Homo sapiens: one gene and its partners. The protein of the gene in region 2 purifies or fractionates together with the protein of the main gene of each other region. This does not show direct contact. Each region holds a gene or a part of one and is shown on either strand. Other genes may lie near its edges.

Region 1 (7,847 bases), on a different chromosome or scaffold from region 2:
CCAGAAAAATATTTTGTTCTTGTAATTTCTATCTGCTCCCTACAATTTCTTTCTTCTTGATGCAGCAGCTGTGAAATGCCAAGATTTCTCCAGGTGGAATTGCTTTTACAGTTCTAGGATGAAGTGTAAAAATAAGACACAGCGCTGCCATCTCTTCACCTGGCCTGTTCTCTGTTGTTCTCTTCCAATGTGTTTCAGTGTGCAAGGGTCCAGTCCCATGAGATAATTCTAAGACTATCTCTTTTCCTCAAGAACACATGAAAGTAATTTTAAATGTAAATACTTGCAATTTAAATCACTTAAGAATACTTTGTTTCTTGAAGTTTACCTTAAATAGATTTGTGTGTTTAAAGTTTTTAGATTATGGTAAAAAAGGTACAGAAGTCTAGATTCTAGTTCATAATAATTTTCATTCCTCATGTTTCCTGAATGTCTACCCTGTGCTGGGCATGGTACCACAAGCTGCAGAGCCAGTAGAGAACAGGATAGAAAAGTTGCCTGCCCTCGTGAAACCTACTTTCTAGTGGACTTAGGGCAAATCCCTGTAAACAGAAGCAAAAGTCACAGAAGATAAGTGAATAGGTTGCTGAGGAAGGTGGAGGTTCATATGAAGGGAACATATTTCTTGTCCATGAGGCTGTGGGTTGTCTATAGATTAGCTCTATCTTGGCTAAGCCTGGCTTAGTTCCACATGCCTTTTCATTCGGGCACAGGCTGAGGGAGCAGCTCCCATCTGGGCCATTCTGTCTTCATGGCAAAGTACCAGAACACAGAGACTGAACTGAACGTCTCAAGTACCTTAAAAACTCACCTATGGACGCTGCCATGCCTGGCAATAGATTGGGAAAATCCAATCCACTAATAGGCTGCTTCTCCACCTCTGCAGATAGACATAGCAAGGAGGGGGTTCTCTTAATACTCTTTTGAAGAAGAGAAGGTGTATGATTGGGAACAAAGATACAATCTATCCGGTTATTTCTTAAAGCAGTAATTTTCTTAAAGATATTCACAACTATAGCCTGGTTAGCTTAATTAGATGGCTTCATTTATAAAATTCATTTTCTTTTTGGAAACACATGTCATTTAGCTGTTTTTACTAGGTTCTGTGTGTGTGTGTGTGTGTGTGTGTACATATGTGTGTGTTTGTGTATATATATGGAACATAGGTGGTGGTTTCTGCGAGAAACATATAAACTGGGTGAGAACAGCGTAGTTGCCTATGCACTATGCCTGCCTGATATTTGTTGAATCAACAAAAGAATGAGGAACTAGTGAGTCAGTTCCACTCTTTAGGAGGAAATTTTGTTTTATGAACATATACAACAAAATTCTCTTTAACTGTGAACTACTACATTTTAGGAAAAGTTGTGTATTACTAGACTTTAGCTATCACCCACTATTACAATACAGAAGAAAGAGCAATTTATAGCAACTCAGAGAGGTGAGGGGATGGGAGAAGCCAACCCTTATTACTGACAAAGAGAATAGTGATTAAGAAATCAAAGATATTGATCTCTTCCATTATTTATTCAATAAGTATGTATCGATTATATTATATGCCAGAAACTTCCAAGAGATGGGGAGATTGAAAGGAACCAAACCAACAGACCCTTTCCTTCATGAAGCTTATATTCTATTTCAGGAGAGTGGGCCATAAACTAAAAACCGTAAAATATGTATTATAATAAAGGTAAAAATTAAGTAGGGGCCAGGTGTGGTAGCTCACACCTGTAATCCCAGCACCTCAGGAGGCTGAGGCAGGTGGATATCTTGAGATCAGGAGTTCAAGACCAGCGTGACCAACATGGTGAAACCTTGTCTATACTAAAAATACAAAAAATTAGCCGGGCGTGATGGTGCACACCTGTAATCTCAGTTACTCGGGAGGCTGAGGCAGGAGAATTGCTTGAACCCGGGAGGTGGAGGCTGCAGTGAGCTAAGATCACGCCACTTCACTCCGGCCTGGGTGACAGAGCAAGACTCCGTCTCAAAACAAAACAAAACAAAATTAAGTAGGAAAGAGTTAAAGAGCTTCCAAATGTGGGCTGTAACTTTCAGTGGTGGAAAGCCCTCTGTGATAAGATGACATTGGTGTAAAGACTTGAGGGAGGTGTGGAGTGAACTGTTTAAATATCTCCACATAGAGCATTCCAGGCAAAGGGAATGGGAAATGGGAAGGCCTTGGGGCATGGGATATTGGGGACCGCAAGGGGAGAGCAGGTGAGAGCAAAAGTGTAGATAAGCTCAGAGAAGTAGCAAGGCCCATATCATCTAGGGCTTTGGCTTGTATTCCAAATAAGATAGAAAACTTTTGGAAATTCTCTGCAGAATGGTGTGTAATGTGATTTTGACTCTCAACAGGATCACTCTTGCTGTCACTTTGGGAATAGACTCAGGAGCAAGAGCAAAAGCAGAGAGACCTTAATCTAGGGATGAGATGATACAGATTTGTACCACGGTATGGTTTCTCTAAAAAAATACAAACCATGTTCCAAGTCAAAAAATGACATGGTATGATTTAGACGGGCTTCCCCTCAACTTAATCTGAATAATGATTTTCAATGTATTATATACTATTCATAAGAATTTGGAATGTAGTTCATAAGTGAACTACGAGTGATATGTTTAATGGCATATTGCTCTGAACATAACTTTAAATCAAACTTTGCAGTCACACTCTTCCTAAATAGAATATTGAATGCTAGCACAGAGTAATGGAATAAGTATTGACTTGGGGGCACACAGCTCTGTTCTTAAATATTTTTGGTGGCATAAATTGGGTCAAGCTGCTTAACCTTGTTGAAACTTGGTTTACCGTCTAGAAAAATGTCTGCTTTACACAGTTATTATGAGGAAAGTGCCAGTACATTTTGATTCATAGAAGAAACTCAATAAAAATACATTAGTTCCCTTCCCTGCAGATTTGGAAGATGTGGAGCAGTAGAGGAAATATCAGTGACGCAGTTTCAGTGTGGTATAAAATGTTTGCTTTATTATGAATGCGTGTTTGATAGCTGCTCCCACCAGCTCTCTTCTGACATTTTTGAAACATATGACTCAACAGGGGAAATTAATAGGATGATAGAACATTGAAATTTGAATCCTGACATAGGAGCCCTCCAGCTGTGTTCCTATAGGTGGTGGCAAACCCATTGCAGATCTACTGAGGCTCTTTCTGGAACCACATAGCCATTGGCCATATATATGCAAGTCTAACCAATACAAAAGCTTGGATATATTTTTTAGACCCTGCAGCAGTCTGAAAAATGTGAGAACTTTGAAAATCATCTTAATTTCATAGATGGGAGTTGAACTCACCCAGGATTAGATCATGACTAAGTGTTACTGAGATTCTGCCAAACTGTGTAGGGTAAAATGGAAATGAGGTGAAAATATGAGAGCAGCTATGGTATATTGCTCTTTTTGAAAATTTCCATCAGAATTATGTAATAAACTAGAGTTGGTAGGGTAGGTGTCTTAGACCTTTTCTATTACTTATAACAGAATACCTGAAACTGGGTTATTTATACAGAAAAGGAACTTATTTCTTAACAGTTATGGAGGCTAAGTCCCATGTCAAGGGGCTGCATCTGGTGAGGGCCTTCTTGCTGGTGGGGACTCTGCAGTGTCCCAGGAAGGCTCAGAGTATCACATGGCGAGGGGGCTGAGTGTGCTAGCTCAGGTCTCCCCTCCTCTTTTTTAAAGCCACCAGGTCCCCTCCCAACATAACCCACTAATCCATGAATGGATTAATCCATTCATGAGGGCAGAGCCCTTATAATCCAGTAACTCTTTAAAAGCCTCATCTCTCAGTATTGCCACAGTAGGGTCCAAGTTTATCTCAATTGCTTACCCTTTTTTTCTTTTTCTTTGTGAAACTGCCTGATTTCAGAAGATGTTTAGCTCAGTAAATATACCAGAGATTTGTTGTTTTGTAAAACAGTCTTTATTCTTTTCTTCCAAATGTGAGATATTCTAAGTGAAATGAAGACTTTTGTCCTTTATGCTTGCTGAAATTTGAATGGCTTGTTTTATAGCAGTCTTTTTTCCCTTTTTCAGGAACTCTTTCCAGTTAACAGACAGAGTGTGGATCATTTTGCTAAATACTTCACTGACGCAGGTCTTAAGGAGCTTTCCGACTTCCTCCGAGTCCAGCAGTCCCTGGGCACCAGGAAGGAACTGCAGAAGGAGCTCCAGGAGCGTCTTTCTCAGGAATGCCCGATCAAGGAGGTGGGAGACCACGGGCAGACATCACCTCAATACACATGAATGAGAGGAATTACATGGGCTGTGTAGCAAAGGCTTTCCTTAACAAGTCTGTCCTATGCTTATTGCTGTAAACTTTGTCCACTTATTCCTACCATTTAAATTAACTCAGCTTCAAAGTATTGATTTAGAATCCTCCATTTTTGTTAACACTCTAGGATGGTCCAGAAATTAATAGTGATTTCCACACAACTGACTTATTTTACCAGGCTGCTATGATTTTCAAAATATTTCATCTGTCAAAGAGATTTGACCATCCACTATCAGTATAGCCCATTATATGGTAGTTTTAAAATTTTGTTGCAGGTTATCTAACCTGATTAAGCATTTGTCTAGTGTTTGGAATTAACACTGGATTTTTTGTTCATCACTCTGTATGAATATGTAACAGGCTTTTTATTTGAAAAAAGTTTGAATTCCTGTCATGGGAAAAGACTAGTTGGATCAGTGACTTGTTTAATCCCACTCACACTTGGAAGAGCTGTGTTTCCCTATAATGTAAAAGCTATATTTTTTATAATACGCATATACATAGTTTATATATACATGCTATAGTTCACAAAGCAATGACTATATCTTTTTTTTATTTTTAGTGTATCTGGAGAGAGCTTTCTATTTGAAGTTTTAAAATCTTTCATGCAACAATTTAAAAATTAATATAAAGCGTCCTTTCTTTTTTTCCACGTGCTCTAAAATGCCTGACCCACACCTCCTTCCATGCTCCAAGCCCTGCTTGGCAGCTCACATGGTTGAAGCCTGGAGAATGTAGGACTGATACTATCCAGCAGGTGGAGGTGTTGGAATGACAAATATTCTTAAGTCTCATGGTATTAAGGATAGCAGTATATTTAATCATATTTCTCCAAGCAAGAATTTGTACATTATTTTCCATGGGGAAAAGAAGCAAACATAAAAAGCCTTGTGATGCTTGTAGATGCCAGGATGTCACACTTTTATGTGGCTTCCTCCAGCCAGCACAGGGACTGGGACTGCCCGGCTCCTTCTGCTTTTGAAGGCTGCTCAAGTCACTGCTGGCATTTCTACACTCCAGGCCAGAAGTCAAGAAAGCAATGTGTTTCCAGCAAAAAAGAAAAGGGAGGGAAAAAAAAGGTGTTACTACTACTCACAAAGTAGTATGCTGGAGATATACGATGACTTTCAATCACTTCTGAGGCCCAAACCTCTATTTATTATTTTATTTTAAAAGGAAAAAGCCTTTCAAATAAATTTTAGGCAAGCCTATATTCCATACTCTCAGGGTTGAGTATAAATTTGCATATTTATACATAATTCAAAGGAGAAAATAAGTTGCTGAATACTGCTGAATTGATGTATATGAAATTTAAAAATTGCCTTTGCACTTACAATTTATTTACAAATTAACTTTTCACTGAGATGGGGCATAAGGATCATCAAAAGTAATCATTGAAGAATAAATTGTGGAGAATGGACCTGTACAAACCCAAGATGGTATCCATCAAGAGGTTTTAAAGTTTAGGGATGGGATAAAAGTTCACAACGCTGTTGCCTTCTTTAAATCTCCAAAAAGTCAAACTGGCTCAAGTATCCCTACTCTACTAGACTCAAAGGGGTTTCTCTATGAGGAAACAAAAATCCTCTCTTACTCCACATTATCCAGCAGCTCCTGGCCAGAGCTAAGCCTATTAATTTTGGGACTAAAAATAAATTTGCTTTGAGAACAAATCATTATAGTTTTTCTCCCTCTTCCAGTCTGAGAATGCAGACAAGGAAAGGAGAAGCTAAGCAGATTGTTTCTTAGCTGCCCCAAAACCTTGATTGACTGGGCAGCTAGCGGGGAGATGGGAGCCCTCCATCTGCCTGTTACTTTCTGACCCCATTTCCATGTAATGTAGGTGGTGCTTTATGTCAAAGAAGAAATGAAGAGGAATGATCTTCCAGAAACAGCAGTGATTGGTCTTCTGTGGACATGTATAATGAACGCTGTTGAGTGGAACAAGAAGGAAGAACTTGTTGCAGAGCAGGCTCTGAAGCACCTGAAGGTAACAGCCCTTAGCAAGGAACTGACCCAGCCAAGGGCAAACTGCAGCTTTTTTTGTTTGTTTGTTTGTTTGTTTGAGAGTGCAGTGGCACGATCTGCGCTCACTGCAACTTTGAACTCCTGGGCTCAAGCCACCCTCCCTCCTCAGCCTCCCAGGTAGCTAGGACTACAGGCGCGTGCCACCACGTCTGGCTAATTTCTTCATTTTTTGGTAGAGATGTAGTCTCGCTGTGTTGCCCAGGCTGGTCTTGAACTCCTGCATTCAAGCTATCCTCCTGCCTTGGCCTCCCAAAGTGTTGGATTGCAGGCATGAGCCACCACGCCGGGCCCAAATTTGTCTTAATTGAGAGTATGACAAATGGGTTCCAACTACAATTACCCTAGACTCAGACTAAACATATACTTCCTAATTTTTTTCCAAGTTTGCACCCAGCGTTCATGAGAACATAGCAGTGAGTAAACTGTCCATGTTACTTTGATCAGGGAAGGCCCTTTGGAAGAGATAAGTATTGAATTGAGTAAGTCTCAGAAAAACAATGGCTATGCCTCAGTGTCAGAAAGTCAAGGATATTTCTAAATGAATGCTTTTTATCCCAGCAGCTCATCAAGATTCCTTCCCTGTACCCACTAAGAGACCAAATATGAGAATCTGCCTATATTAAAGATAATTGCTGGCCTGCTATGTCTAAGGGATATTTCGAAAATGAGGTCATATCCTCATAGAATATCCATTGTATTATTGGACTGTGGCTCTGCCATTGAAAAAATGTGAATCTTCTTCCCAGTTCCCTCACAGGTCGACTATACTGCTTTGTTCCTACTGTTCTGTTCCCCTCACCCCATTGGGCACAATATGATGATAAAAGGTGTCAATCCTGAAAGTCAGTCTTTTCTAAGCAACCCTCCAGGTTACTGTTATAGTTCCAGCAGTGTCGGCTCTGTACCTCCCACGCAAGTGACGGCTTTTACTCTCCACTTCTGTTCTAGCAATATGCTCCCCTGCTGGCCGTGTTCAGCTCCCAAGGCCAGTCAGAGCTGATCCTCCTCCAGAAGGTTCAGGAATACTGCTACGACAACATCCATTTCATGAAAGCCTTTCAGAAGATTGTGGTTCTCTTTTATAAAGGTATCCATCCACGTGCCACTGCTGTGCTTCTGTGTTTTGCTGAAGCTCTTTGAGAGGCAGAGCAGGCAATGAGGCAGAGGAGGTCATGGGGCTCTGTTTAGAGAGGGACAGCAAGATGCTAATTTGTGAAAGTTTTATTGAGGCAACCATACCATGTAGAGAGAGGAGGCATACACGCCATATATGCGTTGCCTTGGAAACCCTGCTTAGGCCCCTGGGCACTTCTCATTGGTAGATGAACTGGTAATTGTTTCTTGGGGTTGGTGGAAAAAAAATGTAATTATATAAAATTGAGCCTGTTTTTGAATTGTAAGGATTAGCTCTAATAACAATGATTATCAAAATAGTATATATATTATGTTCAGACTCTTTTAGGTACCATAAATCTGACTTTAAAATTACTGAAGTAATTAGCCTTTTTACTTTGTATTTTAG
Region 2 (7,870 bases):
AGGGTCCTGTGATGGGGGTGGACTTGGTGCTCAAGGAGTGACCCCTTCCACCTGGGGTATCAAGGAGGCTCCCTTGAGTGGAATCTTAGAGGCAGATCTTAGGGGAAGAGCATCCCTAAAGGGAGAACCGTATCAGCAGTGATGAGGAAGTAGGAAGTGGTTCTGGGGGAGCAGCTGCCTGTCTGCTTTGGCTGGGTGGGAGCAGTGGAGGAAGAAAGGGCTTGGAGGTAGGCATTTCTGGGCAGGTTCACAGTGGGCCTCAAACTCAAGGGTGAGTGGATCAGGCTTTGGTCAATAACAGAGGCATGATTTGGGGTGCATCCACTGCTGATCAAAAGTGTCATCGTCTAGGGCAGGATTCTGGAGCCAGAAGAACTGGGTTTGCATTTATGCTCTGCCACATACCAGCTACGGGGTCTTGGGCAAGCAACTTCACCACTTTGTGCCTTCCATTTCCTCTGTGCATAGGGTTGTGGTGAGAACCAAAGAACACAGTTATTGGGTAGCTCAGGGCCTAGGGCGTGGTAAGCACTGGACACGTGTTAGCTAGTAGAAATGTTACCAGATTTCCCTACAACTGATACTGGGCTGGCACCAGGCTGGGGGTGAGCTGACAAAAGTCACAAAGATGTAAAGTGGGGCCCAGCTAAGACAGGCCCCATCCTGGTATTGGGGGCCAGAGGAGTGATTTGACTCAGAATCTCTGCTTGAACAAAGCTGATGTCGCATTCTGATTGTCTTTGAGTACCACCAGCCAAGGCCTCCAGTGACCAGATGTCCATGAATCCAGAAGTCGTCTTGACTTTCCATGCCATTTGGAAACATTAGGTGAGTGAATCACCACATAGGGGCAGGTGACCATCACAATGATGACAATGGCAAACACACCGGGTCTATCACAGGCCAGCCCACAGGCAAGCCCAAAGAGCGGGATGTCATAACGACCCCATTTCACCGATAAGAAAATCGGGCTCAGGGTTACGTCATCTTCCCAGATCACACAGCTTCTAAGAGGAAGAGTTAGGATTCAAATCCGGGCAGACTGGAGGCTACTCTCCCATTACTCATTCCAGTCTGTGCTCCCCATCTCTTGGGCTACAATGTGAGCTGAATGTTGGGAGCCAGCTGCAGGCAGCAATAGGAAAATAAGGCGTGTCTTCCTCTTGGGCCTCCCCTCAGCCAGCATCAAGATAAGGGGCTCAAAGACGGCCTTGGAGGGAAGGAAGAGAGGTACAGGAGGGTGCCCCTCAGGCTAGGGGAGGGGTGAGGTGGGCAGTGACATGACAAACCCAGCCCACATTCTGAACCAAAATTCCCAGTAAACATGGAGGATCATAAAGGATCTATATATCCACACATATTTATATATACATATAGTATGTATTACATGTATACACACATTATATAAACACACACACACACGCACACACAGACGGACATCCCCAGTGACACATCCCCTCCCAGTCCTAGCACTCAGGACTTAGAAGAAATGAGCAATGAGTGGTGGGAACAGAGGCTGACACATAGGCCCTGGAAATGGACAGAACTGGATTTGATGCCTAGGTTCACCAATCGCTTGCTGTGTAAGCCTGGGTAAATTGCTCTACCTCTCTGATTCTGTTTACTCACTTATAAAGTGGAGAGGGGAATAGTACCTTCACCACAGGTACTGCTGCTGCTGTACTGATTGAGAATTTTGTTGCCTCCCTGCTCCATCCCGCTATCTTCTTCCTCACCCAGCCTAGTGGCTGCTGTAAATGTGTACTCAGCTACTGGATGAATCAAAAAATGCTTGGCAGCAGAGAATACTCAAATGCATGTATATTCCTTGGTGAGGGGTCAGGTCTCAATGTACCCAAGATGATCTCTATCCACTGGGACCATTTGTGCTACCCTGCAAGGACAGGCTTGTTTTCAAGTATTAAGTACCTACCACACATCAGGCACTGTGCTAAGCAGTCTCCCTTAAATATCACAGTAACTGATCCATGAGGCTACATAAACCTGGAGAGATGAAAGCCACACAGCTACTGGGTGGAAGAATCTGGATTGCCCCCAGGTCTCCCTAACTCCAAAGCCTGCCCTTTTCAGCATATTTCCGTGTCACAGCATGCCAAGCCGGCCACGAGAGCTTGGGCAAGTGCCTTCCCCTGCTAGGGAAGTTCCCCATCTGTAAAATATGGTGGTGGTAGTGATGGGAGCAGACAAAGAGTCCACATACTACAGACAGGCTGGTCTCCTGACTGCCCTCTCGCCTGGCCGAGCCTGAGTCTCTCCGAATACCTCTGAGGCTTTTCTAGGTACAACATTCAAGGCTTCTAACCCTCCTGTGGGCCCGAAATGTCCTGGGAGTGTGGATGATACTAACCCGAGACAAAGTGTACTAGGGCTGTGGGTGATGCACACCCTGGCCTCTCAAGGGGTGTGGGAGGCAGAGAGGACGCTTGGGGACAGAGGCGGTGTCTGGAAATAGGGTGTGACAGGCAAGGGGAGAGCTGCTAGGACACTCTACCAAAGCAGGAGGGAGGGTGTGTCTGGGGCTGGCTGGGCTCCTAAGCGGGCCCTAGAAGCACTTTCACAGAGGAGGGGAGAGGTGAGTCACCAGCTTCTCCCACACCCAGCGCCCTGGTAGGAGGCGCTGCTTGTTGAATGAATGTTGGGCTTAAATAGTTTCCCGAGAAAGGCTAGTTGCAGGGAGAAGAGGCCTTGAGGGAACAGCCCTCAGCCAGGCCTCCTCCAACCAAATCCTTGCTAGGGGGAGGAGGGGCCCCGACAGTAGAGAAATGCTCCCTCTCCCCCAACTCCTTCGCTCCCAGCCCAGCCTAAGCTTTTTGGAGCATCACAGACTCGGTTTACAGAGACTCCCTAGGGCGGAGAGCTCTCTGCCCGCCTGGACAGCCCTGTCTGTCCATTGCTGGACAGCTCCACTTGGGCTGGATCGCCTTCCTCCCTCCCAAGGGACTGGCGCCCTCTCTGAGGTCGCGTCCAGCTCTCATAATGCGCAAGTTTCAGGGCCCCAAGGTACAGGAGGGAACTGGGAATGCAAGGAGGGGCCGCGGAGAGGCGTACAAGCAGATCCCAGTACGGGAGCAACACCTCCGAGTCCGCCTCCGCACGAACGCCGAGGACGAGGCGAGCCAAGGAACACGGACAAAAGAAGCCTGGACAGGCCGCGAGATGAGCAGAGGGATGAGCTGGCGAAGGCACAGACACGGCGAGCAGAGGGAGATGCGGGCCTAGCCGCACGGAGGAGCTCCAGGCGGCGAAATGGACCTAGAGGACCCCGGGGAAAAGCCCCAGGGCGACGGGGAAGCCTGGGTGTGGCCCGGCTGGCCCGGGGATACTCACATTCGCGGCCATGGTGGGACCCGGCTCGCTGCCGCCGCCTCGCGCTGTTCAGCTAGGAAGTGGGCTGACGACTGGAGCGTGGTGTCCAGCGGCCTCTTGCCAGCCCCAGCTTCGAAAATCCGCGTGGACTCCAGGGCCAAGCGGGACTTACTGCAGTTACCTCCCCCTGTGCCCAGTGTTTCTGCGCATGCGCGCGGCGAGACGTCCTGGAAACTATACGGTCCGGGACATTGCAGTACCTCATTGATGCGCCTGCGCACTGCAAAGCTTTCGGGGAAATGTAGTTTCTACTGCCTGGAGAGCTGTCGAGGAGCGCGCGACCTGCTGGGAAATGTAGTTTCCGGCTGAGGTTGGCCTGGCCGCGGTTGCGAGGGCGCCGAGGCAGGCGCGCGGCGGGCAGGCCTGGGAGGGGGCGGGTCCGCGCGGGCTTCGGAGGAGCCCGCCCTGCCAGAGGAGAGGGAGGTCACGGCGTAAAGGTGCAGCTGCCGCCACCGCCGCTTCTGCAAGGTCTCAGGGACGGGCTGCAGCCATGTCCTATTGCCGGCAGGAAGGTAGGGAGGGCGGGCTGCCACGGAGACCGGCCTACGAGGGCCTGCGGGAGACACGCGGGCCCCGGCGCCCCGCGACCACGCCGGGCGCGGGCCACCTGAGGCGCGGCCCAGGTGCCCACCCTGGGACACTCGGAGGCGGGCCGGCTGGGGGGTCGCTACTCCTGTTTTGCGGATGAGAAAACCGAAGCTCTGGGGGGAACGGGGCTGGTCCAAGGTCACAGTGAAGCCCGAACCCTGACCTCAGAGGGGCCTGTGCGTAGGAAGTCGTAAACTAGGTCCGGTTGGGGCACGGGAAGTGCCGAGCACGTTGCGTGTGGCTCGAAACTGGGAATGTATGGTGGTTAATTATCACTACCGCTCCTGCCATACCCCACGTGTTTACATTTTGCACGCGCCTTTAAAAGGCGCGTCCCGAAAAGTTGCCACTCGGGGTAGCGTGTGCTGTGCTGGAGTGCTAGGAGTTCCACTAACGGGAATGTTTTTGAGCCCCCTGCTACCTGTCAGGCACTGTTCAAGGAAACTTGCCTGGCTTGTCTCACAGATCTCGCTGCGACCTTTGTAAGTCAGGCTCTGTTGTTGGTCACATTTTACTGAAGAGTAAAGTTAGACACAGGAGACATGGCTAAAGCCACTCAGCCAGCAAATCGTGGAGCTGGGGTTTGAGCCTGGGCATTGTGACCCCAGAAGAGCCTTATCCAATCTAGTGCCCAGTGGATTGCAGGGAGAACCCTGCCTACCTCCCACCCCAAAGTTGAGCTCCGACCACCTACTGCTTCCTTGATGTTACTCTACCCAAGAGCTCAGAAGTACCCGAGCCACAGGTCGGAGGGCCTCCCCACACACTGCCACAAACTGGCTCCTTGGCCCTGAGCTCCCACCTAACCCCTCCAGGCCCTGGTATCCAGTGTTGTAAAATGAGATGTTGGGCTTCATTGATACGGCAAATACTCATGAAGCACCTTCTCTGCGCCAGAGAAGGGGGATGGATGGTTATAAAACTACAGAGAGAGTTGGAAGTCCCCCAGAAATTCTTTGGTGAATACTCCAGCTCCGTCAGTTAATTCAAGCAATCTGAAGCCCAGAGAAGGAGGTGGCCTACCTGTAGTTACACATCCAGTTAGGAGACTAGCTCAGCCTAAAATTCTGAGCCTTTTCCCTGGTGGCGCTGTCTGCTTCTAGAACCTCTCCTCCTCTGGGTCGTAAAGCCATAAGACTCACTCTTTAATGAGTACTATTATATTTCCGCTGATTACTACTTAATGTGTGCCATAAGCAAAAGTCCTCTGCCCTCACCACTCTTGTTTTTAATTTCGAGTCTTTCTCTAATTTACTTCATTTAGCAAATAATTTTTGAGCCTTTGGGTATAATGAGGCTGTGCTGATAAACAAGACCCTCCTCTTTGAGGATTTACAGGAGGCAGTTTTCTCTGGAAAGGGGAGGCTAGGTCCATCTGCCTCCAAAACATGGAGCCCTATCTTTTCCTGCTTCAAAGATCTCTCTTAGTTCGGAGAGGAGTGAGAATTGAAAGCACTCACTTATAGGCCTTCCTTAGTATTTATCTTGTGCATACCACTGTCCCCGTAAGAAGTCCCTAACTTCCCCCCCTCCGCCCCCCACTGATCCTTTATGCTTCCCATAGGATTTTTAAAAAATGATCCCAAACTGCTTACTGTATCAGAGCTTATGTGATCTGGCCCTGTCTGCCTTTCCAGCCTGGTCTCTTCCCACCCTTTTGCTGCCCAGCCTCTAGCCTCTTGGCTATTCCCTTGGTTTGGTATATCCTGCCTTCAGCTCTTCCGTGGCTGACTCCTCATCCTTTAACATTTAGCTCCAATATCACCTCCTGACCCTTTGTGTCTTTCACATCCTGAACTGTCTGAAATGACCTTTTTTATTTTTTGCCATCTTACTTCCTGCCTGTCTTCTCGCACTAAGCTGAGAGCATCAGATGGGCTGTGGAATCCCCAGCATCTAGCACAGGGCTTGGTGTACAATGGGTGCCCACATCTTTATTGAATCATGCATTTACCTGCCCTCTGTTCTGAGTGAATCACTTGCCTGTACAAGTTTATTTCAGGGGTCCACCTGCTACCCAGCCTTCAGGTTAAACTCGTTGGTTTGGCATTCAAGGGCTCTCAGCCTCGCACCTGGGCCTTGGGCTAGCCACACTTCTCCTGTGTCAGCACCATAGTGTTTCTTTCTTAGTTTCCTCTTTCTAATGCAGAGCCTGCCAACTCCTGTTCAGTCAACAATTATAGAGCACACGTGATGTGCCAGCCATTGGGCATATAGTGGTGAGCAAGGTGACACATTCTCTGCCCTCCTGGCATGGTGGAACAGATTGCCATTAAAACATCACCAGACAAATGCATGATTACAGACTGTCATAGGTGACATGAAGGAAAAGCCCAGCATGCTATGATCGTTTAGTGAAAGGCTCTATGGGGTCTGAGAAGGCTTCCTGAGGCTTCAGACATCCTTTTAAATGCCACTTTCTTAAGAAAACCTTTTGCAATCCTAAACACGTGTGAGCGAACACTACTTAAAACCCTCCTTTTGCCCTCCAGGCTTTGCCCAGGATGGTTCCTTCTGGAATGTCTATTCCCCTCCTTCCCTCCCTGAAGCTCTTTGTCAGGGACAAAGGTAGGATCCCTCCCCTTCCGTCTTCTCCACTGGATGCCTGTGTCGTATTCATCTGTGACCACCAGGTACTACCACAGAGCTGGAGCTGAGGAAGGTTTGTTGAGCTAAACTTCTAACACTTGCATTCTTCTTAACACTCTGTCTGAAAGCCATTTGTGTATTCTTCACAGACACTTGATTCTGTATGGGGGAGTTGTATCTTTCAAAGGGGTTAGATTCTAAACATGAAAGTCCTTAGCAGTCAGATTTATCAAACTCTTAGAAACCCCTTACCTCACTCAAAATACACCACAGGCACCACTCCCTCTGGCTTTAGATCTCTTTCTTGGGTTGAGCTTCAGAAAGTAGTGGTTGGAATTGTATCACAGGTGTATTGAATCAACTTAGCCAAAAACGAAAGAAAATAAGTCCTTAGTGCAGGTTGCCATTCTCAAACATGACCCTGGGGAGTCAGCATCCATGGGAGACAATAAACTGCTTCCTCTGCAGGACACAGGGGCATTCCTTCTGGGGTGGATGAGCTGAGAGATTCTGGTGTATAAAGATCCTCCCCTTTCATGGGGGAAATCAAACTACTCATCCAAGGGATTTTTTGGTCTCACTCACTTAATGGTGATAACCATTCTGTCTTCCTGCTTTCTGCTGGGACTGGGTGACAGAGCAGGAGTAGCGTCATCTCGGACAAACACTGGCACATTAAGTTCCAGCTCCCTTTCTAGCCTCATGCATTTCAAGGAAGTCACTTCTCTTCTAACTACAAGCAGCCAGAAAGAGCAGACAGTAAAACACAGACAAGACAGCTGGGACACAGAGGGAGGTGGGGGGAAAGTCTCTTGGGTGACTGCCAAACTTCACCCTCATACAATGGGCCCCAGTAAAACTGTGGGCCTTAATAAGCACATTCCTTTCCCTTCAGGTGTACTAAGATAGGGAAGCTAAAAGCAGTCTTGGGGGGATATGCCTGCAGCTGCAGAAAGATGTATGGAAACAGACACACCAGTCTGCCTCCCAGATAAGCACAACAAAGAGACACAGAAGCAGTCCAAGCCACTGATAAGCTCTCCCACCCTGAATCCTTAAAAACTCTTAGTCTGTAAGAGAGTGTGGCTCTGACCTAACTCAGCCAGCAGCCCCTCTCAGGTTTGTTTAAAATAAACCTGTCCCTGTTGACTGAAAAGCCACCCTTCGTGTTTCTCTCCTCTTTAATTCTTACACTTGGGTCTTCAAGCCCTAATCCAGAGTTGTTTCTCCATTCATTTTTTTCAACAAATATTGAACACCCACTTTGTCCTTGGTACTATTCTGGGCTCTCAGGATACTGCAATGA
Region 3 (7,948 bases), on a different chromosome or scaffold from region 2:
CTTCAAACACCTGCTGGGCCCAAAGAACATGAAACCATCTTATGAAAACACCAGTCAAGTAAGAATTTTCCTTTCCCTCCCCTCTCACTTCCAATCCTTCCCCCCTAATCGGGGAGAGGTCAGAAAGAGCAGCTGTCTATCTGTGGGAGGAGGAAGCAGGGAAGGAAACAAAGTCATCACCCCCCTCCAGACTGAAGTACCCATCTATAGTGGGCTTAACTAGGAAAGGGGAGAGAAATTTTCATTTTAAATGAATTGGAAGCTTCAAATCATGACTTGGACCTGGACTTTCTAGTTACCATTTTGAGATAAACTAAATGCCATCAAACCTGTGGCTTTAAATTACTACCTGTATAACACTGTTTGTTTTGTTTTGTTTTGTTATTTGAGACAGAGTCTTGCTCTGTTGCCCAGGTTGGAGTGCAGTGGCATGATCACCACTCACTGCAGTCTCAACTTCTTGGGCTCAAGCTACCCTCCCACCTCAACCTCCTGAGTAGCTGGGACTACAGGTGCTCCCCACCACACCTGGCTAATTTTAAAAAGAACATTTGTAGAGACAGGGTCTTACTATGTTGCCCAGGTTGGTCTTGAACTCCTGGGCTCAAGTGATCCTCCCACCTTAGCCTCCCAAAATGCTGAGATTACAGGCATGAGAACACCGTACCTGGCCTGTACAGTACTTTCAATAACCTTTGAGTAACTAGGGAAGGCATGAATTGACTTGTGTTCAGGATCAAAGTGAGAGATATTGGGACAAAAAAAAAGAAAGGAAAAAAAACCTGCTTTCTGGTTATAAAATGTAATTCTGTTTGATTAGCACACTGATGACATTGGAGAGTGTGTAATAACTAAGGATTATGATTAATCCAATTCTGTGCACCTGAGATCCAAAGAGAAAAGAAAAAAAACAAAACTCATGGAGCCTAGCTGTGAGTATCAGACTCAAATAAAAGTTGAGAAGACATTGGGAGGTTATCTCAGTAATGCCAACAACTTACAAATGAATTTTAGACTGGCCTCTTTCTTTTTTTTTTTTTTTTTTGAGACAGGATCTCACTCTGTCACCCAGGCTGGAGTGCACCGGTGCGATTTCAGCTCACTGCAACATCCACCTCCCAGGCTCAAGCCATCTTCCCAGCTGGGAATACAGGTGTGCGCAACCATGCCTGGCTAATTTTCATATTTTTTGTAGAGACCAGGTTTCTCCATGTTTTCCAGGCTGGTCTTGAACTCCTGACCTCAAGTGATCAGCCCACCTCAGCCTCCCAAAGTGCTAGGATTATAGGCATGAGCCATCGCGCCCAGTCCTGGCCTCTTCTTTTTAAAACTCATTTTTATTTTATTAAGAATAAAACAAATAATATACCATGAGTATATGTCAAAATTTAACATAAATTATATATCATAAACCAGCAAGTATTGAATTGTGGACTCACATCAATATGATGGTTGGTAAACATAACCTATATGTGTGTATATGATAAAAGAAATGAGTTGGGAGGCCGAGGCGGTGGATCACGAGGTCAGGAGATCGAGACCATCCTGGCCAGCATGGTGAAACCCCGTCTCTACTAAAAATACAAAGAATATTAGCCAGGCGTGGTGGTGGGCACTTGTAGTCCCAGCTACTCGGGAGGCTGAGGCAGGAGAATGGTGTGAACCCGGGAGGCGGAGCTTGCGGTGAGCCGAGATCGTGCCACTGCACTCCAGCCTGGGCGACAGAGCGAGACTCCATCTCAAAAGATAAATAAATACATTAATTAATTAAAATAAAATAAATAAAAGAAATGAGCTGGGTATGGTTGCTCATGCCTGTAATCTTAACACTTTTGGAGGCTGAGGTGGGAGGATCACTTGAGATCAGGAGTTGGAGACCAGCCTGAGCAACACAGGGAGACCTTCTGTCTCCAAAAAGGTAACTCTCTGCAAGCCTGACTGCTGAAACTGCCTCTTGTAAACGGAGACCAGTTTTATCTAACAACTGCTGAAACAACCTACTGTGACTCTAAGACTAATTTTACCTGCTGCCATCTCTCACCAATCCTAGCTTGCAAGCTCCCCCAAACCTTACTAAAACCAATAAAATTTCTTTCAAAACAACGTGTAACATTTCTCCTTTTTATAAAAGCCCCAACCTTCTCTTTGTACTTCAGATATATTGAAGACGCCCACCTGTCTCATCTGTGTGTATGCCCTGAATTGTAATTCTTACTTTCTAAATCAATTGCTTTAAATTTAGAGATTCATCTCTATGTTTTGTTTGACTTTGACGTAAGTATCACAGTAATTCTAGGCAAACATTGGACACCTTCATTATGTTTTCTAATATAGTTATGACTGAGTATTTAAAATATTCATGTGGACATTTTATTTTAAATAATTTCGGCCGGGCGCGGTGGCCCGCGCCTGTAATCCCAGCACTTTGGTAGGCCGAGGCGGGCGGATCACGAGGTCAGGAGATCGAGACCATCCTGGCTAACACGGTGAAACCCCGTCCCTACTAAAAATACAAAAAAAAAATTAGCCGGGCGAGGTGGCGGGAGCCTGTAGTCCCAGCTACTCTGAAGGCTGAGGCAGGAGAATGACGGGAACCCCAAGGGGCGGAGCCTGCAGTGAGCCGAGATCGCGCCACTGCACTCCAGCCTGGGCGACAGCGAGACTCCGTCTCAAAATAAATAAAATAAATAAATAAATAAATAATTTCATGTCTCCATTCCTGTTTGGTCATTATATTGATATTTTTGAAATTTCATGTGGAAGTAGCTTATATCATCTATAAATTTAATTCCATTAAATCAAAGTGGGTACTTGTAAATCAATTCCATCATAGGTAATTTTTTTAGTTTAATGTTTACGATTCTTATGGAGAAAGAAGTGTTTTTCATTTACCTTTGCATGGGTGCTTAAAATACACATTTCTATTTCAAGATGACACTGAAAAATTCTTCTAATATAACAGCAGCAAAAATGTAATTCTGCAATTACAAAAGTGCTAAACTGAAATCCATAATTAAGGTTTTCTCATGTTTACAATTGTGGTTCTTTAATCAATACTAATACTATGCAGGTCTGTTGTAAGGTTTCTAGATTCGGTTTAAACACACGCACACAATACTGTCAGTTGTAGGAGGCTTTACAAGTTATATTTCATGCACTTTTTTTTAAAGAGTTCTAAAAGAGCCAACCAGTCCACAAGACAGACAGAAAAAAAGTTAAATTAACTGGAGTAAATTGGACTCTTAACATTCGAAACATGCAAGATTCTGCAGCAAACTGGGAGTACTTCAGGATTGGCCTGCTATCTTCCTTAGTATTAATTTCATCTTAACAGTTTAAGAAGTTGGACATTTTAACACCATCAAGCGCATTTAGGTGACGTGTTTCTTGTGTGTTAACTTGGCTCCCCGGAATGATCTAGTTAGTGAACTAGTCACTAATAATTTGGTCACCAGGCAAATCAAGCCTACACGAAAGGAAGCGACTATTCAAAATACCGTAGTATCATCTGAACCTACCCAAATAATTTATGTTCAACATAAACATGTAACTTCAATAATGAGATGACTCATTAATGAGTCAAGCTCCTCCAACAAGACAAAGACAACATCTCTTCTTCTAAGGTTTAAGTTTTGCATAGAAATCCGGATACATGGAATAGCCCATACCAACAGTCATTGCTCCTACAACAAAGCTGGACTGCCACACGCATGTGGATCAGGTGACGTGATATTTTAGTATTTCCCCTGCTTTTCAATTTGTATAATCCGTATGCAGCAACTACTGCAAAACCTGCCATTCCAATGGGGACAAATGGTGCCTCTTTAGTTTTTCGAATCACTTTGGATCCCTGGAATCCCTCACAAGCCATCCAGCTTCCCCTACGGATATTTTTAGGAATGGCAACAGTGGCCAGAGATCAGAGGATTATATTATTAGGGTTATACAACTTTTATATAAAAAAAGTGGCTTCTGACCAGGCGCGGTGGCTCACGTTTGTAATCCCAACACTTTGGGAGGCCGAGGCAGAAGGATTGCTTGAGCCAGAAGTTCGAGACCAGCCTGGGCAACATAGATCAGAAGGCGAATAGAATAAGTCCGCTAGCTTTGAGATTCACATCTGTTCCTGAGGCTTCCTCACTGCTCCCCACCCTTCCTTCTTCAATCAGTCTAAGAGCTCCTGGAGAAATGGAACACCTGATTCAGTGAGGGTGACAAATAATTATGAGTATGTTCGTGCCAGGGTCCTCGATAGGATGGGGTGGGGGAGGTCAAGCCGCCTTGGCAGCTGGCCAGGCTCCGAACAGCAGATGGCGCTGTAGGGGGAGTCCCACCGGGTACGCCGGGCGCTCTGGCACTAGGGCGCCGGTCGTCTCCTCCGCAGCTTCCGGCACGGCCTTCAAGCGCGGGACGCGACAAAGTCATGGACCGCAACCCCTCGCCGCCGCCGCCGGGTCGCGACAAGGAGGAGGAGGAGGAGGTGGCCGGTGGAGACTGCATAGGGAGCACGGTCTACAGCAAACACTGGCTCTTCGGCGTCCTCAGCGGACTCATCCAGGTGTGGAAACTCGCGCCACGCGTGGGGTGTCCCTACATCCCCCAGGCACCGGGGCTCCGCCTCTGGCGAATCCTCCTGCCCCGGGAGCCGCCATCCCCACAAAGACCCCTCCCCAGGCGTGCGCTGCGGGACCTTGCTCCTTGCGTTTCGCCGGCCGCTGCGGACCCCAAAACTATCTGGGCCCCCTCGGGGTCTCTCGACACAAAGGGAAGTATAATGGTAGGGATGCTGAAATACTTGCCGTTCTATTTTGCTTTCCCAAGTTCTCCAAAAATACATGATCGTGTAACTGCATTCCTCGGGTTTTGCTCCCCATCCCCACTGTCATTTCTGAAGCCCAGGTCCTTAATTTATGTATTTCATGGACTATCGTTGTAATAGAATAAATGGTGACTTTAGGGTTATACAACTTTTATATTAAAAACGTGGCTTCTGACCAGGCGCGGTGGCTCACCTCTGTAATCCCAACACTTTGGGAGGCCGAGGCGGAAGGATCGCTTGAGCCAGGAGTTTGAGACCAGCCTGGGCAACATAGACCTGGTTTCTACAAACTTAAAAAAAAAAAAAAAAAAAAGCCGGTCGTGACGGTGCACGCCTGTAGTCCCAGCGACTCAGGAGGCTGAGGCTGGAGGATCGCTTGAGCCTGAAGTTGGAGGCTGCAGTGAGCTATGATCCAGCTTCTGCACTCCAGGCTGGGGGACGGAGTAAGACCCTGTCTCAAAAAAACAAAAAACGCAGCTTCCTTACCCACTAGCTGCAGGTCACCTAACGGCTCAGAACCTCTATTTGTCCCTTAATTTCTATAAAATGGGATTATAATATTTATATTATATATAAGGTTATTGTGTAGGTTAAGTGAGATTATAATGGCAACAGAGTGCTTAGCATGGTGTTTGGCTTATAGGAGGCTGTCAGTAAATGTGTTTTCTTCCCCCCATGTTTCCCTAATTGGTTCCTCTCCTCCTATTGTCTATCCTCTCCAGTCAATTTTCTACACAGCTGCCAGAATAATCTTCTTTAAAGACAGGGCTATTCATGATACTGCTCTTAGTTCTTTTTGCCTGGGAGAAAAATGCATGTTTCTTGAAGTTTGGAATCCAGGGCTGTTTGTACATTTTCCAGCCTCATCTTCTCATGATACACTGTGTTCCATCAACTCTGAACTGTTCACCATCCCCAAACATGCTAGGCCCTTTCTTAACTCTGAACTCTTGTGCTTTCCTCTGAATACTCACTTCTCTCCTTCTTCACATGACAAACTACTATTCTTCCTTTAAAATTTAGCTTAAATATCAGCACCTAAGGGAAGGTTCCCCATCTTCTCCTAGGAATAGGTCATTGGTCCATCGTTTTTGCTACCAGAACTCTTTGTCCACAATTCAGTTGAATCACTTTGCCTTTTCTAATATGACTATCCCTTTACATGTCTTTCCCCACTAGATCCTAAAAGTTAAAAAAAAAAAAAAGCTTAAATGTAAGGGATTATATCTTACTTGTCTTTGTATATCTACCCCAGTGCCTAGCAACAGTATTTACTTTGTGAATGTTGAAAGAGTAGATCTACCCAAGGTACTACATTTTTAAAAGAAGATTTTTGCAAGAGAAGATACTTTGCTGATAGCCTCTTTGTGACTTCTAAACGATTATGGGTTAATATTAAAGTAAGTGCTCACTTAACATCAGTAGGTTCTTGGAAATTGTGACTGTAAGCAAAATTACTGATAATGAAACCAATTTTACCATAGCTAATTGATATAAACAAGAGTTAAGTCCCTGTGGCATATTTCTGGACACAAGAACATCACCAAACTTCTAAATGAGGACCTAAAACACTTCTAATATTAAACATTGAGATAAATGTGAGCTATAATACGTTTAGGAAAGGTTAATAAAAACAAGATAATTATTCACCCAGTTTTGGTGAGTTAGTGAGTGATGGTGGTTGTAGTGATTATCACTACAACCTTTATTCTTTGATTGTGTTAAATCAAGGAATAAATGTTTACAAAGCAAAAATGATCACCTCTTACTACTGTACAGTCCAAAAACAATAACAAATAAGGCAGGCTTACTGAGCACTTTCCTACCACATAATTATTGTCACGCATCTCTATGGTTATTGTCTTCTTTACAGATTTTTGTTTTATAATAATTTGTATTCATCCATTTCCCAACCCACTTGCTCTGGTTCAGGGTTGAGGGTGGCTGGAGCCTGTACCAGCAGTTCAAGGTGCAAGGCAGAAACCAGCCCTGGACAGGATGCCATCCCATCACAGGTACACACACACCCACACTCACTCAGATTGGGACCATTTAGATACCCGTTGTGCTAATGTGCAAATTTGGGGGATGTAGGAGGAAACTAAAGTACCTGGAACAGACTCATGCACTCTTGGGGAGAACATGCAAACTCCACACAGACAGTGGCCCTGGCCAGGAATCAAATTTTTTTCTCATCAGCGTTACGAGGAAATGTTATTTGATCACCTGCTGTATTTGGGTACCTGGTTAGTATTGTAGACAACTTTTATTCATGTTTTCTTTCTTTGTGTTTCTGAAGATTGTTAGCCCTGAAAACACCAAATCTAGCTCAGATGATGAGGAGCAGCTGACGGAGCTTGATGAAGAAATGGAGAATGAAATTTGCAGAGTATGGGATATGTCAATGGATGAGGTATGAGGCTGGAAACAAAACTCTGAAGACTGTTGGGTGAGGAGATGGTGAATGAATGTTTTAAAAACGGTTCAGTCCTTCACTCTGGGGAAAGGCTTTATCTCCTGTCTGTAATCACACCCATATATGATATAGGGAATGAGATCCCAGGGGCTATAAATGCTAAACTTCTGTCTTTGAGGCTGGAGGATTTGAGCTCTCAACAGATTCGGACTAAATACGTAGCTCTTATGAATGTATTCCTATACACATGTAGGCCGGGAAAGTTCTGATACTTACCTACCTAAAGAGAGCTCTGGCCATATATTTGACAGCAGGTTAGGAGTTAGAAGACCACTGATATACCATGATAATATTAGAAGGAAAGGACAATAAATAATTATATGTCTGTAATTGCAGTATTAATCATAGTGTTTTAATATCTGTATTTTATTCTATAGCTCAAAAGCATTTTCATATATAGTATTCTATTTGATCTTCACAATAACCCTGTGATGTAGGTAGTACCCTTATTTTACAGTTAAGAAAATAGAGGCCAAAAGACATTAAATGACCTATGTAATCTTTCTTGTTTTATTACCTGGACTTTAGCAATAGCTTCCTGATTAAAATCCTTGTTTTAGTCTCTTTCACCTCCCTTCTGTCCTCTACATTGCCACCCGTGTTACCTTTTTTTCCGGAAATACAGACTTAATTGTACTCATTTTCTTAAAAAT
Region 4 (7,847 bases), on a different chromosome or scaffold from region 2:
GGAAGAAACTAACCGGCTCTATGCAGCTGAAGGCCAAAAATTAATGCAAGAAAGAGAGGTATTTAAAAATCATGACTAATAAATTCTCACTGTCTCTCACAATAGACCTTACTTTGTAGAATATAAGCTTCCCTTTGCATTTATCTTCCCAACATTGTGATGCTCTTCTCTCACTTAGGTGCTCCTTTCTTTTCTCTCTTCTTAAAGGCCAGAATTCTGGATCATAAACTCTACCTATAAATTTTTACATATGATTCTACCCTGTCACATTTGACAGGGCCACTTCCAGGATCTTTTGGACTTGACATTTTCTGAATGATTTATGGGGAGGAAAACAATAATGTAAAAAACTATCTTTGTAGGTTCCTGAATATCTACATCATGTTAACAAACGTCTAGAAGAAGAAGCAGACAGACTTATTACTTACTTAGATCAGACCACCCAGTAAGTACCACATGCTGAATTTAATAGTCTTAAACTGTCGTTAAATCACTTGCAGCACTTTAGCCATCCTAAACATGTTAGTAACTGTTTTCAGGTGTGATTTGAAGTGTTAACAGTTGTTTTCATAATACAAACTTCAAGTTATTCTTTTCCCTAGTTAATTAGTTTTCATCCAAGGATTCGATTATTAGGGGTGTGTGTGTGTGTGTGTGTGTGTGTGTGTGTGTGTGTTTAGAAGGTAATTTAGAAATAATACTAGAGGCTGATGTGACCTTTAAACTCTTCAGGCCAATTAAAATTCAGTGGATTCCCCTATTTCTGTGCTTTCCTAAGTATTAATATTGCCAGTCGAGGGGCCTCTGTATGTAGTACTTCTTTACCTTCCTAATAAAAGTAGCAAAACTTGGAAAAAGCCGACTACAGCAAGGTCTTGGAGATATTTATTTCGTTATGTAAACCAAATTCTAAAATATGCAGTGTTTTTTTAAAATTTTTGCCTGTCAGTTCCTTTATGTCTTTTTCTTTTAGGCATAAAGTATAGTAACTCTGAGCACCAATAAATTTATACATAGGATAGGAATCTTGAAATCAACATAAAATGAGCTATTTGATTTTTTTCCCCCCTCAGGAGAGGCTTTACATTTTCTGGAAGTCAAACGTCAATAATACTAACCTTTTTTTTTTTCCTTGTAGGAAGTCATTAATTGCTACTGTAGAAAAACAACTTCTAGGTGAACACTTAACAGCAATTCTTCAGAAAGGTAATTGGCAATTTGTAAATAAGAGATTGCTTTTTAAATGGTAGTGGCAAACTAGTAGGGAATTTTTAAAGATGTTGCCCTTTTAAAAGTTTGATAGCATGTGGCTGCATTTCTGAGGATGGACACAATCCTTATTAATCACAGTAAACTTCCTGGAGGTGCCAGTTTTCTTATCTGAAAGATACAGGAACTAGAAGAGAGGGATCCACAAATACCAATAAAAAAACAGTGGTTGATATGTGCCTGTAGTATCAGCTACTTGAGAGGCTGAGGCAGGAGGATTGCTTCAGCCCAGGAGTTTGAGGTCAGCCTGGGCAACATAGTGAGACTCTCGTCTCTTTAAATAAAATAAAAGAAAAAAAGTGGGAAATTCTTGACTTAATATGTAAGCTTTCAGTAAGGAAAGGTATTCCTTTTTACACTAAAGCGGTGAGGGTTTTTTGTTGTTCATGGCATGTCAAACCAAGCACTTCTAATCCCAAGTGAATTTAGAGTATACCCTACATTTTACTTTGAGAATGCCGCAAATAGGTAAAAGCCTTACCTTTCTCCCCAATAATATTTTCTTTTGTATAAAAATTTATATATTTAGAAATTTAATGCAGTTATACTGTTATTTCATCCTGGAAATCAAATATTTATTAGAGCCTCATTTAAATTTGACCTATTTATGCATGGCTTTTGATATATCACAGGCTATATCCAGTATTCTGAAATATAACTATGTACATAATATGGCTACTACATATATGAGGTATTTATAATGTATATTTATGTAAGCCAGTTTTTATAAGTTTGTTTTTGCCTCTAATCTATCATGCTAAATGGCACAAACCATTATGGAGTTAACCATTTTTCTTTTTCTTTTTAATTTTTTTAACTTTTTGAATTAAAATAGAGAGGGGGAGGGGGTCTTACTGTTGTGCCCAGGCTGGTCTTGACCTCCTGGCTTCAATTGATCCTCCTGCCTCAGCCTCCCAAAGTGCTGGGATTACAGGTGTGAGCCACCGTGCCTGGCCTGTTTTTATTTTTATAGCGACTAAAGTCTCTATATTTAGTTTTTACCCAGAAAGATGGTTGGGTTTAATTCAAAGGAAATCTTACATTACAACTCACATACAGACTAGTCATAGTTCAAACCAGTATCACAATAATGATTATAACTCAAATTTTATTAAAATGTCTGATAATCTTGTTCACTTTTTTGTTCACTATATTTTAATGCCAAAATGTTTTAAAATACAGGTTTAAATAACCTCCTTGATGAAAACCGAATTCAAGATTTGTCTCTTCTGTATCAGCTCTTCAGTAGAGTTCGAGGTGGAGTTCAGGTTCTTTTGCAGCAGTGGATCGAATATATCAAGGTATTAACAATTTACCTGTGATTTTTCTCTCTTATGGCTTATCTACACATCAAGAGTGCATATTGGCAAGCATTTCTTGTTTGATCCAATTTTTTTTTTTTTGAGACAGAGTTTTGCTCTCGTCACCCAGGCTGGAGTGCGGTGGCACGATCTTAGCTCGCTGCAACCTCTGCCTCCCAGGTTCAAGTGATTCTCCTGCCTCAGCCTCCCAAGTAGCTAGGATTACAGGCATGCACCACCATGCCTGGCTAATTTTGTATTTTTAGTAGAGACGGGGTTTCACCATGTTGGTCAGGCTGGCCTTGAACTCCTGAACTCAAATGATCCACCCGCCTTGGCCTCCCAAAGTGCTGGGATTACAGGCGTGAGCCACCACACCCGGACTTGATCCAGTTCTTTTAAGGGAATTTTAAATTTGTTTAAAAAGTAATGGGAATTTTGAGAACAGTCAACCTGAGAATGGTAGCTGTGTGGCATATCAGCTATAAAACCTGATTGATGGCTGACATAATTTCTGTCTCTACCACTTAAAGCAGTAAATGTAGAAAAAGACTTTGAACCCCAAATTTCTTTCCTTTCTTCAATCTTACACTAAAGCCAGATTGCCATTTTAAGGAAGTTGAAAGCTGACTTCTTTAAAAATAAGGAAAAGATCCCAGAGGCTTCTAATAATACCCTGTTATGATATCATATGCCCAGTGATCATTGCTTACTATTTTTGTGATTATAGATGAGTGGTTAACAGTGTGGATATTTAGCACTTTATTTTTTTGTCCTCATTTCACTATCAGCTTTATTTTGCCAGGTGCAGTGGTACATGCCTGTAACTCCAGCTACTTGGGAGGCTGAGGCAGGAGGATCCTTTCAGCCTAGGAGTTTCAGACTAGCCTGGGCAACATAGCAAGATTCCATCTTAAAAATAGCTTTATCTTACTTTTTAAAGATCTTTAAATATATATGCCACTTAAAATATGATTTGGGGATTGTTTTCATTGTAGACAATTCGATTACAGTAAAAAGTGGTAATTTTTTGTTTTAGGCATTTGGCAGCACTATTGTAATTAATCCTGAAAAAGATAAAACCATGGTTCAAGAATTGCTGGATTTTAAAGATAAGGTTGACCATATAATTGATATCTGCTTTCTGAAGAATGAGAAATTTATCAATGCCATGAAAGAAGCATTTGAAACGTTCATTAACAAAAGACCAAATAAACCAGCTGAACTTATAGGTATGTTTTCCAGTCCTTTTTCCAGTTGTTTAATGATGTTCTTTGAGTCATAAAATCTCAATCTGAAATTTTTACCAGGTTGTAGTATTACTAATTCCTGATTTGTTTGAGGTTGCTTAGCTGGTATATCAAGTTTGAAGAGTGTTTCTAAAAACCTGGATGTAAGTACTGAAAGCCCACATGTCAAACATAATGTGCTTTCTTTCAAAGACAGTACGTTGGACACTATTTACCTTTATTGATAATAAGCTAATCTGTTTTCCTAGCCTAATGATTTAAAAATGAGGCAGGGTGTTATTTCAAGCTACAAAAAAGGGCAGCATGAAATTACAGTTGTCAGTGAAAAAGAAAAAAGTCCAGGGCAAAAATAAACCTAATAATCTGGGCCCATTTAGCATAAGGATGTGATATACACTACAGTGCTTCTCAGGTTTTTCCACCCAAGTACCCTTAGTGTCAGAGGAGGAGGTAACCTGAGAAGGTCTAGGGTCCTCTGCCAAAAGGATGAAATTTTGTTGCAACCTATCTACTATGTATCCGTAAACATGTAGCAAATTTTACCTTCTACTCTACGATGTATCTGGTTTATTTTAATAGAAAAGTAATGTTTAAGATTGCTTACTATTCCTATAAAATGGATACTCCAGAAGATTCCTCATGTCTTTTCGTGGCTTGGATTACATGATGCCCTCACAGGGCTACATGAGACCTCCCCCACAGGATATCCGTATCCTATTTTCATAAACATCAGTATAGTGGGAAGTACATTTGATCTGGAGTCAGAACACTTGGGTTTGTGTTCAGGCCCTGATGTTATTAGCTCTATGGCACTGAACAAGTCAGTTGATCTTCCTGACTTTGGAGACTTTTAAAAATGCATATAAATTTCTGAAGTATTGAAAAACTCAGTGTATCATACTCCTCTTTGGGTATATATAGTGCCCAGTACCTCGTGTATTCCCCGGTTATTAAACAACAAACTTTTCCCCCATTTTAGCTAAGTATGTAGATTCAAAACTTCGTGCAGGCAACAAAGAAGCTACAGATGAAGAACTTGAGAAAATGTTGGATAAAATTATGATCATATTTAGATTTATCTATGGTAAGTATTTACTAATGTTTTAATATTTTTCTTTTAAAATAGCACTCAACAGAGAAGCTAGCAAGTATATTCAAACTGGAGGGAATATTTATTTGGAAATTACAGATTTAAAATTGTGTTTAATTCATTGGGGGGATACGTGAGGAATGTTACCTGATTGTCCTATGCTTTGGCTCTTCTAGTATTAAGTGCCTTGATTTTTGCTACTTGGCTTAATCTCTTAAATATTGGCACCAAAGCTACCAGTCCACAAAAGCTTTTCTGAAGAAAAGTTAATGCAATCAAGACAGTTACATGCAAAAAAGTTTTACAATAAAGACTTCGAAATGTCTGGCACAAAAATGGATCTCTACTGTTTCTTGCATTTAACAAACTTAAATAAAATGTGTAAAGTAAAATAACTTGGAATAATGGTGTGCTTTATTAAAGCACTTTAAAGCAGTTTTGTCAGTACTTTTTATTGGAATATTATAAATTTTGCATTTCTTTTTACATAGGCAAGGATGTTTTTGAGGCCTTCTATAAGAAAGATTTAGCCAAGCGCCTGTTAGTCGGAAAGAGTGCATCTGTAGATGCTGAAAAATCAATGCTGTCCAAACTTAAACATGGTAGGTTTCTCATTCTTTCTGTTCCTTTTCTTTGATTCCTGAAGGAGAATGTTAGCTTTTTACCCTTTCAATCGATTTCCTCTTTTGTCACTCATGTCTATGTATATATGATGAAAACATAAATTGAGCAAGCTCCTGAGGTTTCCAACTTATTGTACATAATATCCAGAGTTGTTTTTTTTAAGATAAAGCATTGTTCTTGGTTTTATTATTTGTATAAAAATTTCCCATTTATTTTATACCTAAATAGTAGATAAGGTTACTACAGGATTAAAGAGTTTGACTCTGAATTAATGGGGCATACACTTTGGGGTAAGGATTTCTTTTTATTCTTATGAAAGTTACAGATCATACTTCATACTAAAGTTTTGTATTTCGTGTTTCCCACTTTTAAACCTCTTTTGTTTTTACCACTTTAAAATATTATACATGTACAAACATCTTTAATAGAATGCGGAGCTGCTTTCACCAGCAAACTTGAAGGAATGTTTAAAGACATGGAACTTTCTAAAGACATCATGATTCAGTTCAAACAGGTAAAAGTGAGTTAAACTCTTAATTCCTCAAACTTAGTTGTATTTAGTTATCTGCTTGCTATGATTTGTACTAAAGAGGATAAATAGAAACGTGTTTGTTGTAATTCATGGCAACTGAGGTGATATTCACAGTAGAAAAAAAAATTGGTGAAATATAAGTATATTTGACCTACTTTAGGATTTATTTTTGACAAACACCCAGAATAACACAAAAATAAAAATAAAATGTATTGAACTGAAGTCAGTACAAGAAGAGCTATAGTGGGAAAAGGGCTTTCCTCAGCATCTTATCGTTTGGTAATTTGCATGTTCAGAGCTTGCAATGGGGAGAGAGGAGAAGTGATAATGCAGCTGTATAAAAGCCTTTGGGGACATTGGGGATAGAAAGCTAGATCCACAGTTTTGAAGATGTAGGTAGAAAGTAGTTTTGAAATGTTTAAGATCATAGGTGATAATGATGGCAAATTAGATTTTCCTCTTTTGGGTTTTAGTAGTGACTTCTTTACCCCACAGTGTTGCTAAGGTGGGAAGTGGAAGTGAAAGAATTAAGAAAAAATCAGGGTCAGTAAGATTATGGATTCTATAGTAGCTACAGAATAGGGCTTATCTGCTTTGCCCTTTTCCCCTCTTTTTCCTTCCCTACTCCAGGTCACTCCCTGCAGACAGGCAGTGGAGCAAGTGAAAAACTGGAGACTTGGGCTGGCTGGGGGGTGAGGAATGGGGGTTGCTGCAAGGTGTTTAAGCCACATAGGGGTATTCAAAGGTGGGGACTGCAGGTGGTATTGGGGAAAAGAATGGAGAAGAGATCCTATAACGGCCCAGCTGTATGTGAGAAATTATTTAAGTTGATAACGCCTGTAATGAGGTCATGTGATCCTTGTATGCCTTTGTATCAAAATGTTAACCTCTGTACTTGCCTAGTGCATTTTGTGTAGGTTTCATTTAAAGTCTTCTTAATAGTTGCCTTTTATTTTAAGGATGGTCAGTGTTTGCATGTAATTTCATAACAGGGAACTTCTTAAATAGGTTATTATGATATGAAATGTATGCAGTTTTAAGATCTCAGTGTGTGTTTTGATCTTCTTATAGTATATGCAGAATCAGAATGTTCCGGGAAATATTGAGTTAACTGTGAATATCCTGACAATGGGCTATTGGCCGACATATGTGCCTATGGAAGTTCATTTACCACCAGAGGTAAGAGTTACTGTTTAGAACTGAGTTATAGGCATAGAAATCATAGCATTTCCATTTTGCTTGTCATTTAAAAATAGATACTTAGAAAAAAATAGAGACCCAGGGTCTCGCTGTATTGCTCAGGCTGGTCTTGAACTCTTGGGCTCAAGTGATCCCCCCCGCCTCAGCCTTCCGAAGTGCTGGGATTACAGGTGTAAGTCACCAGGCTTGGCATGGATACTTTTAAAAGTGTATGTCAGTAAGCGCACCAACACCAAATACCAACTGCTTTAATGTTTTACTTTTGTACTTAGAAGTCCAGTTAAGCACATAGCTAATAATGCCAAATTTCTGGGTTCAGGGTCAATTTCCCTGGCTCTTCTTCCATCTTCCCAGGTTATACCCCTCACTCTACCTAGCTATTAAGAATTCTTGCACATATTTCACCCATAGGTGGGATTGCTAAATGATGGGTCCTTGATTAAATCTATCCTGACTCCTGGTAAACTGTCTAGTCCAGGACTGAAGCCCATAAAAGGGATTAAGGCTAGACAGATAGATATTGAGAATCCTCCATGGAGATGATTATGAAGGCCCAGGGAGTAGATTTCTCTCAAAGAGGA

Evidence for each region.
Region 1: the proteins of TMEM43 (region 2) and BZW2 purify together in Homo sapiens (affinity purification with mass spectrometry; 4 studies listed by BioGRID and IntAct, with this or other methods). This does not show direct contact.
Region 3: the proteins of TMEM43 (region 2) and SAAL1 purify together in Homo sapiens (affinity purification with mass spectrometry; 3 studies listed by BioGRID and IntAct, with this or other methods). This does not show direct contact.
Region 4: the proteins of TMEM43 (region 2) and CUL4B purify together in Homo sapiens (affinity purification with mass spectrometry; 5 studies listed by BioGRID and IntAct, with this or other methods). This does not show direct contact.

Annotation. Positions count from the first base shown.
Region 1 is NC_000007.14:16,690,775-16,698,621, forward strand, and holds part of BZW2 (eIF5-mimic protein 1), read left to right. Parts: intron 1-4,059; coding exon 4,060-4,230; intron 4,231-6,140; coding exon 6,141-6,287; intron 6,288-7,273; coding exon 7,274-7,412; intron 7,413-7,847. UniProt on the Homo sapiens protein: Translation initiation regulator which represses non-AUG initiated translation and repeat-associated non-AUG (RAN) initiated translation by acting as a competitive inhibitor of eukaryotic translation initiation factor 5 (EIF5) function.
Region 2 is NC_000003.12:14,120,684-14,128,553, reverse strand, and holds the start of TMEM43 (transmembrane protein 43), read right to left. Parts: upstream 3,503-7,870; 5' UTR 3,361-3,502; coding exon 3,349-3,360; intron 1-3,348. Other genes in the region: CHCHD4 (mitochondrial intermembrane space import and assembly protein 40), read left to right, coding at 6,577-6,637. UniProt on the Homo sapiens protein: May have an important role in maintaining nuclear envelope structure by organizing protein complexes at the inner nuclear membrane. Required for retaining emerin at the inner nuclear membrane.
Region 3 is NC_000011.10:18,102,517-18,110,464, reverse strand, and holds the start of SAAL1 (protein SAAL1), read left to right. Parts: upstream 1-4,382; 5' UTR 4,383-4,423; coding exon 4,424-4,558; intron 4,559-7,118; coding exon 7,119-7,232; intron 7,233-7,948. UniProt on the Homo sapiens protein: Plays a role in promoting the proliferation of synovial fibroblasts in response to pro-inflammatory stimuli.
Region 4 is NC_000023.11:120,536,325-120,544,171, reverse strand, and holds part of CUL4B (cullin-4B), read left to right. Parts: coding exon 1-58; intron 59-362; coding exon 363-445; intron 446-1,138; coding exon 1,139-1,206; intron 1,207-2,451; coding exon 2,452-2,570; intron 2,571-3,609; coding exon 3,610-3,802; intron 3,803-4,799; coding exon 4,800-4,904; intron 4,905-5,401; coding exon 5,402-5,512; intron 5,513-5,962; coding exon 5,963-6,048; intron 6,049-7,137; coding exon 7,138-7,245; intron 7,246-7,847.